Linked DNA regions of Homo sapiens. The protein of the gene in region 1 purifies or fractionates together with the protein of each later gene. This does not show direct contact. Each region holds a gene or a part of one and is shown on either strand. Other genes may lie near its edges. The genes, in order: ESRP1 and ELAVL2.

Region 1 (3,814 bases):
AACATCACATGGGGACCCGGTATATTGAGGTATGTCCTCAAAACCTGAACCCCTGGACATCGTGAATGAGAATTAACATAGGACGGAAGGCTCAGAAACACTAACTTCTCTGTCTTTTCTCAGGTTTACAAAGCAACAGGTGAAGATTTCCTTAAAATTGCTGGTGGTAAGTGCCTTTTACATAATGTGGCTTTAGTTAATAAGAATCTAAAAATTTTGCATACTTAAATTTAGCAAGAGTAGGTGAATAGGGTCATGAATGGTTTTTATTTTCTAATGGAACATGGGAATAGATTTTCTTCCCCAGAGGTAGAAGCTTCCGATAATAACAGTGAGCTTAATGTATAACACTTGTCCTAAGGCTTGAGCCAACTTACTATAGTTAAATAGCCATTAAAAATAGTACTATACAAAGGTGAAAAGGTGATATGAAGTTGTATGCATATGGAAAGGCTAGGTTTTTTTGTTTTGTTTTTTTGGAGACAGAGTTTCGCTCTGTCACCCAAACTGGAGTGCGGTGGCACAATCTCAGCTCGTTGCGACCTCTGCCTCCCAGGCTCAAGCAATTCTTGTGCCTCCGCCTCCGTAGTGGCTGGGTTTACAGGTGTGTGCCACCATGCCTGGCTAACTTTTTGTATTTTTAATAGAGATGGGGTTTCACCATGTTGGCCAAGCTGGTCTGGAACCCCTGGCTTCAAATTGATCCTCCTGCCTCAGCCTCCCAAAGTGCTGGGATTACAGGCCTGAGCCCCTGTGCCCGGCCAGGAAATGATATTCTTGAAAAGAGTCAGAAAACTGCTTTCAAACGGCCACGCTGCAATACCTGGGATTGTTGCACATGTGCTTCTAATTTTTCTCTAAACTTAACACATGAGTCACCAGAAACATGGTAGTTTTGGGTCTCGTAGTATTTTTGGATGTGTATTTACAGTAATATGGTTAAAAACAGGGTGGAACAGATGTGGTTTTTATCCAGTTATTTAGTGATTAATAACTTTAAAGGAAGTAACATGCATAAAACGTTGACTGCTTTTTGTCTGATTTTTTTCTATATATATATCTACTTTGTAAGTTTCTGTTGCTCATTCATATTGTTTTATAATTTCCTTTTAATGTATATTAACATCATCCTACATTACTCAATTTTCTTAAATGTTAATTGCTACATAGTATTATATGTACCATAATATTTTGAAACATCTCTGTTGGAGCTGGGCACATGGCTTGTGCCTGTAATTCCAGCTACTTGGGAGGCTGAGACAGGGAGGATTGCTTGAGCCTTGGTGTATTTTGAGAATGGCCTGAGCAACATAGTGAGATTCTGTCTGTAATAAATAAAATATCCCTGTTGAGCATTTAGAACTCATTTCCAACTTTTGACTTTAATATGTTGTCAATATTTTAAAATCTCTGTATGCGCCACTCATTGGGATAAATCTCTAAAAGCAGGATAGCTGAATCAAAGAATTTTGGACCTTTTCAACAGCCATTTGACACCTATTGCCAAATTATATGAAGATGACTTTCACTGTGTAAAAGAACATTTGTATTCCTACATTACAGAGCCTGGGTGAAAATTTTGCAGCTATAGAACTTACCGGAACAGCATCCTATTAACACAATCTGCTGGTATATTTTTGCTCCAGTTCATCTTTAGATAAACTCTAAGGCTTCAAAATTCAGGACTTCAAATTTAGGAGCATTTCCAGAGTTCCCAAGCAATGTTTGATATTGTTAGGGGTCAAATATATTTGGGGTTGCTGTGGTTTTACCTAAATCCTGACATTTCATGATAGATGCATTGCAACTTGGAGATGGCAAAGTCAATTGTTTATATCATTTCTGGGATTTCATTGTATATGGGCACTGCGATAAGAATTTGCTATTAGGGGCTGGGCTTGGTGGCTCATGCCTTTAATGCCAGCACTTTGGAAGGCCAAGGCAGGCGGATCACTTGTGGTCAAGAGTTCGAGGCCAGCCTGGCCAATATGGTGAAACCCCATCTCTACTAATAATACACAAATTAGCCAGGAGAGGGGTGTGTGTGTGTGTGTGTGTGTGTGTAATCCCAGCTACTCTGGGAGGCCGAGGCAGGAGAATCAACTTGAATCTCTGCGGCGGTGTTTGCAGTGAGCCGAGACCGTGCCACTGCACTCCAGCCTAGGAGACAGAGTGAAACTGTGTCTCAAAAAAAAAACAAAAAAGAAGCAAAAAGAAGAACGTGCTATTAGGGAAAATGTTACTAGTGTATGAGTTTCAAAGATATGCATTTAAGTATTTGCTATATGACAACACTGTACAAAATGTTTTATGTTGGGCAGAATGTTGATCAATATTGAAAGTAGGTACCCCATATATTCATTATACTATTCTTTTTACTAAGAATGTTTGAACCTTTCTTAATTAAAAAAAAAAAAGGTAATTGAGTTACTTGCAGATGGTTTTCTTGGGAGCAAAAGAGTAATCAGGAAAAGATTTTTTTAACCCAAAGTGCTTTATATCTATTACCCTACTTAATTTTCATAATTTATGACATAGGCAATCTTACAGACAAGAAAAGTAAGGCACGGAGTTGAACTTGACTAAGATTATGCCCTAGTAAGCAGTAAAGCCAAGATTGGACCCAGGCATTCTGGCTCCAGGACCTGTGCCTTTAACTACCACAATGACTTACTAGTGATTGGCCCGTGATTTAATTGTCTTGCCAGCTTCCTAAATTAAGAAGGATGTTTTATGAAAAAGGGGAGGAGTTTCAAATTTAGAAAATTCTGATTTCTAGGATGTTATTTTGCGTTCAGTAGGAGTATGGGTCTTCATTATGAACTCAAGACATTGGCAGGACTTTTATCACTTTAAAATCGGTAAAGTTGATGTCTTAACTATTTCTCTCCCTGCTTCCTAATATTTGTTTTCCCTAGGTACTTCCAATGAGGTAGCCCAGTTTCTCTCCAAGGAAAATCAAGTCATTGTCCGCATGCGGGGGCTCCCTTTCACGGCCACAGCTGAAGAAGTGGTGGCCTTCTTTGGACAGCATTGCCCTATTACTGGGGGAAAGGAAGGCATCCTCTTTGTCACCTACCCAGATGGTAGGCCAACAGGGGACGCTTTTGTCCTCTTTGCCTGTGAGGAATATGCACAGAATGCGTTGAGGAAGCATAAAGACTTGTTGGGTAAAAGATACATTGAACTCTTCAGGAGCACAGCAGCTGAAGTTCAGCAGGTTGGTTTTAAAAACAAGTATGTTGTACCTTTGCATTAATTTCTGTTCTTTATCTCTGAAAATAGTCCTACATTGCTCATTATGTTAAAATAAAACTGGCAAAATACTAAAAGTGTAACTGCATGAAAATAGTCTTGATTCTATAACCAAGAGATAGCCGCTGTTATCCTGTACACACACACAACACATACTACGTATTTTTACAGAAATGGGATACTGCTATAGCTGGATTTTTGTATTCTGTTTTAAAACTATGAAAGCTTACCTATGTCTGAAAAGTTTCATCTTTAAATATCTCATGGAAGTGCATACTTTATCTAGAAATTCCTCTAGTGTACACTTAGATTGATTTTTTTCTACCAGAAGAAATTTCTATGTAAAATGCTTAAAAACCTGTCATCAATTTGATTTCTGTAGCATTGGATATAGAGTGTGAGCTTTTAAGGTTTTTAATGTGTTGCCAAATGTTATTTCCCAAAAGGCTTCATCGGTTTCATACCCTGCTGGTGAGCTCTGTCCTGTTTTACTAGCTTTCAGCATGTGTGTGTGTGTGTGTGTTTGAGATGGGGTCTTGCTCTGTCACCCAGGCTGGAG
Region 2 (3,814 bases), on another chromosome or scaffold:
GTTTTAACCACACAAAAATAAAAATACTCTCTCAAAAAGGAAAATTACAAAGGAGGAATCACAGAAAATTTAATGTAACATGTTTCTTCATATTCTAATTTTTCCTACCCCATTCTGGCCTTTATCTTCCAGATGTTTTCTTCCTCTTCTTTCTCTCCCCATAGTTTGCAAGCGAACTTCCCGTAAGTATATCCTCCCCACAACCTTAAGTGTTGTTACCTTAGCATCCCTACAAACCTCCTATAAAGAAGGCCCCTACCACAAATGCAGTAACATTCGGGTCCACTCAGCAATACAGTCACCATTTATATATACCCAAAGGTTACTAAGACAAGGTAGATGCAGGACAGCTTTTCCACCCGCTCACCAAAATGGAAACTCCAGGTCAGCTTCCACAAGAAATGGGAAATTCAAGCGACTCTGGCGAAACGATTCTTGAGAAAACTCTTCAAGGGCAACAAAACAATATTTCAAACAAACAGATTTTACTTGAGGGAATGGGGACATTACACAGCAATTGATATTCGAATGGTTTTAAATGGACTGATTCGCCGTAAGTTTTGAGGCTGAGCTAAATTTTTATGAAGAATTATTAGGAATAGGGCCACTAGAAAATTAAGTTTTAAAAGCGCTTTTGTCCTTGCCGAAGGTATTACATTTTGGCACTTCTAAGAACCGTTCTTTGAGGGAGGGAATAAAGGAGAGTGGACAACTCGTAGCAAATCCTTTTCCCATGTTTTCAGAAAATGTAGAGACGATAGGACTTGAAAATCTTTGTCATAAAGATGGTCTTTAAAAATGCACACAATTCTAAATGACCATCTGGGCAGCTACAACTGCATGCTCATAGCTCGCATCTAGAGGCATGGTTTTACGCTCTGGCCCTGAAGGATAACAAGGAGGCTTTTAAGGAAATGCCGTGAGAAAGACTGCTGGCTAAGCATTGTCACGGCCACTGGAGGAGCACCTGCCAGTGAACCGACGCTGGCTCCCCCAGTCTCACCAGTGCACGCACACTAGTCCGTGCACCCCGGCCGCCGCTGGCAGGCCCTACCAGCCAAGCTGGAGGAGCAGCTGCCGCAACCACGGCAAGCGAACTGAAATCCCAGAGCCGGCCTCGCCCGGCAGAGCGCCCGCGCTTCCCGCGCAGCGCACGCCTCGCGCGCAAACCCGAGATGTGACCGCGAGCTGCGACCTCGCGCGGCTGCGACGGGCCTCACCTAACGCGCACGAGGGGATCATCATTGCTCCTGCCCTGGGCGCCCGCGGCCCTACACCACCTCCGCACACAACGCGGCCGGTGTTAAGTCTCCAAACGCCCCGAGAGCTCCAAGGACCGCGCGCGCGAAGGCGCCGTAGCAAGTGGGCACACACCAGACACCACCCCGGCGTGTTCCGCGGGAGAAGCCAGTGCACACATCCTCCCGCAAGGCGGGGTTGCCAGTGCAACACAGGAATCCTGCCCTTTTTCTAGAAAAGCCCCCTCCCCCACTTTCCCTCCAATACACTCACCTGCGTCTCAACAGTTTCCTTCTTGCGCTACACGCGGCCGCACCCGGGCACGTCCACGCCCGTGCACGCTGCCAGGCGCGACTGTCCCCGCTCGGCTCCCGCCGCCCCCAACCTGCTTGTGCCCACGGGAGGGGCGGTGCCACCTCCCGAGGCGCCCAATTCTCTCTACTCCCGCCGCAACGGGCTGAGCTCTAGGAACTTCGCGGGCACAACCTCCGCCGCCCCCACCAGTGTTCCCGCCCAGAGTTCGGACTAGGGCGCACCACCCCTACCCTGCTAGACGCAGCGGGGGCGCGCACAGACCTTAGCCTCGGCGTCCAAAATGGACCAGGGGCAAGGCGCGGACGCCGTCCCCGCCCCCACGCCCCCAGCACTTGCCTGCTGTGACTCGAAGCTGCAGCTACTACGGCTCGTGCCGCTGGCCGTCAGCACTGCCGCGGAGGAGTCGCTCGGGGCGAGCTCCGCGGAGAGGCGGTGGCGGCGGCGGCGGCGGGAAAGGGGACTGGAAGCCGGCGGAACCCCCGCCCCACCCGCGCCGCGCCGCGCCGCGCCGGCAACCGCCCTCCTCACCCGGCCGGCTACTGCCTCAGTGACGCCCAGGCGCCGCGGTCCCGCCGTTTGTAGCGGGGCGGGAAGGAGGGGCTTGCTTGGAAGAGCGCCAGGAGGCGGGGCCGGCGGCGAGTTCGCGGCGCCGCGGCCGCCGCCGGCGCGTGCCCTGCCCGACCGCCCTTCGGGTCCGTGCCGGCAGGGAGATGCCGGGCTTCAGCAGCTCAGCTCCGTCCCTCCGGACTTCCGAGTCTCACCAGGCTTCCCCGACAAGGTTTCTCTGGACTCGGTGGAGAGCGTTGAGCGCCCAGAGGAGGCTGATTCCAGGTGCAAGTTTGCAAATCCCGAGGCCCGGGGCGCTAACGGGGAGTCAGAGCAGCTAACGTGGGGGTTACTTTATGTGTTCATAAATGTATTTATAAATATATATAAGTATACACACATATGTGTGTCTCTTTTAAAAATTCTCTTTTTCCCCCTACTTCGCAGCCAAGGGGTCCTGTCCCTGGACAGAAAATAAAGGCTTAGCCCCCTGCTGCCCCTCCCTGCCTCTCTAGAGAGAACCTGACGTTTAAATAAGCCCAGAGTACCTGTGCGGGGTGCTGTACTCTGCTTCAAACGCAAAGTAGGAAATCCTGCACTCGACTATGCAAACGCTTGCCGCTAGCCGCATCCTTCTATCGCCCCCCAACTCAAGACCCGAAATGGCCAACTCTTCACCGAGGGGGCGTCCCATCGCTGCCTTGCCTTGGCCCGCCCCTTCGCCAAGCTCAATCCCTTTTCCCCAGAAAAACCTGTGCCTGTCCTCAGACCCGGCCCCACGGCTGGAAGTCAAAACCCACCCCGGAGCCACGCGGCTGGAGCACGTTTTTACACCTGCTCGGCCGCTTAATTACGAGAGCACCTGTAGTTGGGATTTTTTTCATTGCAAAGGCATCGATTTTAGCCCTTCTCCTAAAATACTACATTTAAAAAATCACCTGTCATACCTACCTGAAATTGTAGGAGGTAAGAGAAAGGAACCGAGCAGTGGGCGACCCAGTCGCCGCAAGAACGTGACCGAGGTTACAGCTTCAAGGGCATGATGCAGGTTTGATGCAGCAAGGTCCGCTAAGGGCGTCCAGCGCTCCCCGCCCCCATGCGACGGGCGGAGCGGGGTTGGGGGGAAGGGAGGGGACTCGTCTAACCCAGGGCGGGTGTGGGAGAGGCAAATTTGCCCTCTTGGGCGAAGTCTAATCAGCATAGTGAAGTAGGGGGCTCAACCAAGGTCAAAAGCGAGATAGGCCATCCCTTAATTTGTGCGACCCAGTCTGGGGACACCGGATACAGCTAACTGATTCTATATCAGCATTTCCGTGTCACCCCAAATCCGATTTGCAATTAAATGACCTTAATTGACTTTGTGTGGGTTCCTGGGAAAACTGCTCAAAGCGCCTGCGCCTCTTTGACCTCTCAGTAAATAGTTAATTATAATATTCTCATCCCAGGCACGCGGGATTGCTAAAAATGCCTATTTCCAAAACGTTAGGCGAAAATGGGCCTACTTAATTTGTCAATCCAAACCTAAAACTCTTAGAATGCCCTACGCCCTACTTCCTGACGCTGACTAAATTATGGGAGAGCTCTCAGAAGAGTTCCCCAAGTCTTCCAAACCACTTCTTCCTACAACCGTAGCGTTTTTTGTGAAGAGCTCCAGAACAGGTTAGCTTTATGAAGCGGGGTGCCCAAGCACTTGGTTAAAAGAGGGAACGGGGAA

The links.
Region 2: the proteins of ESRP1 (region 1) and ELAVL2 purify together in Homo sapiens (affinity purification with mass spectrometry; one large-scale study listed by BioGRID and IntAct). This does not show direct contact.

The regions. Positions count from the first base shown.
Region 1 is NC_000008.11:94,665,031-94,668,844, forward strand, and holds part of ESRP1 (epithelial splicing regulatory protein 1), read left to right. Parts: coding exon 1-29; intron 30-123; coding exon 124-166; intron 167-2,918; coding exon 2,919-3,220; intron 3,221-3,814. UniProt on the Homo sapiens protein: mRNA splicing factor that regulates the formation of epithelial cell-specific isoforms. Specifically regulates the expression of FGFR2-IIIb, an epithelial cell-specific isoform of FGFR2.
Region 2 is NC_000009.12:23,819,715-23,823,528, forward strand, and holds part of ELAVL2 (ELAV-like protein 2), read right to left. Parts: intron 3,419-3,814; exon of another isoform or gene 3,052-3,418; intron 2,842-3,051; exon of another isoform or gene 2,649-2,841; intron 2,107-2,648; exon of another isoform or gene 1,891-2,106; intron 1,596-1,890; exon of another isoform or gene 1,513-1,595; intron 1,443-1,512; exon of another isoform or gene 1,221-1,442; intron 1-1,220.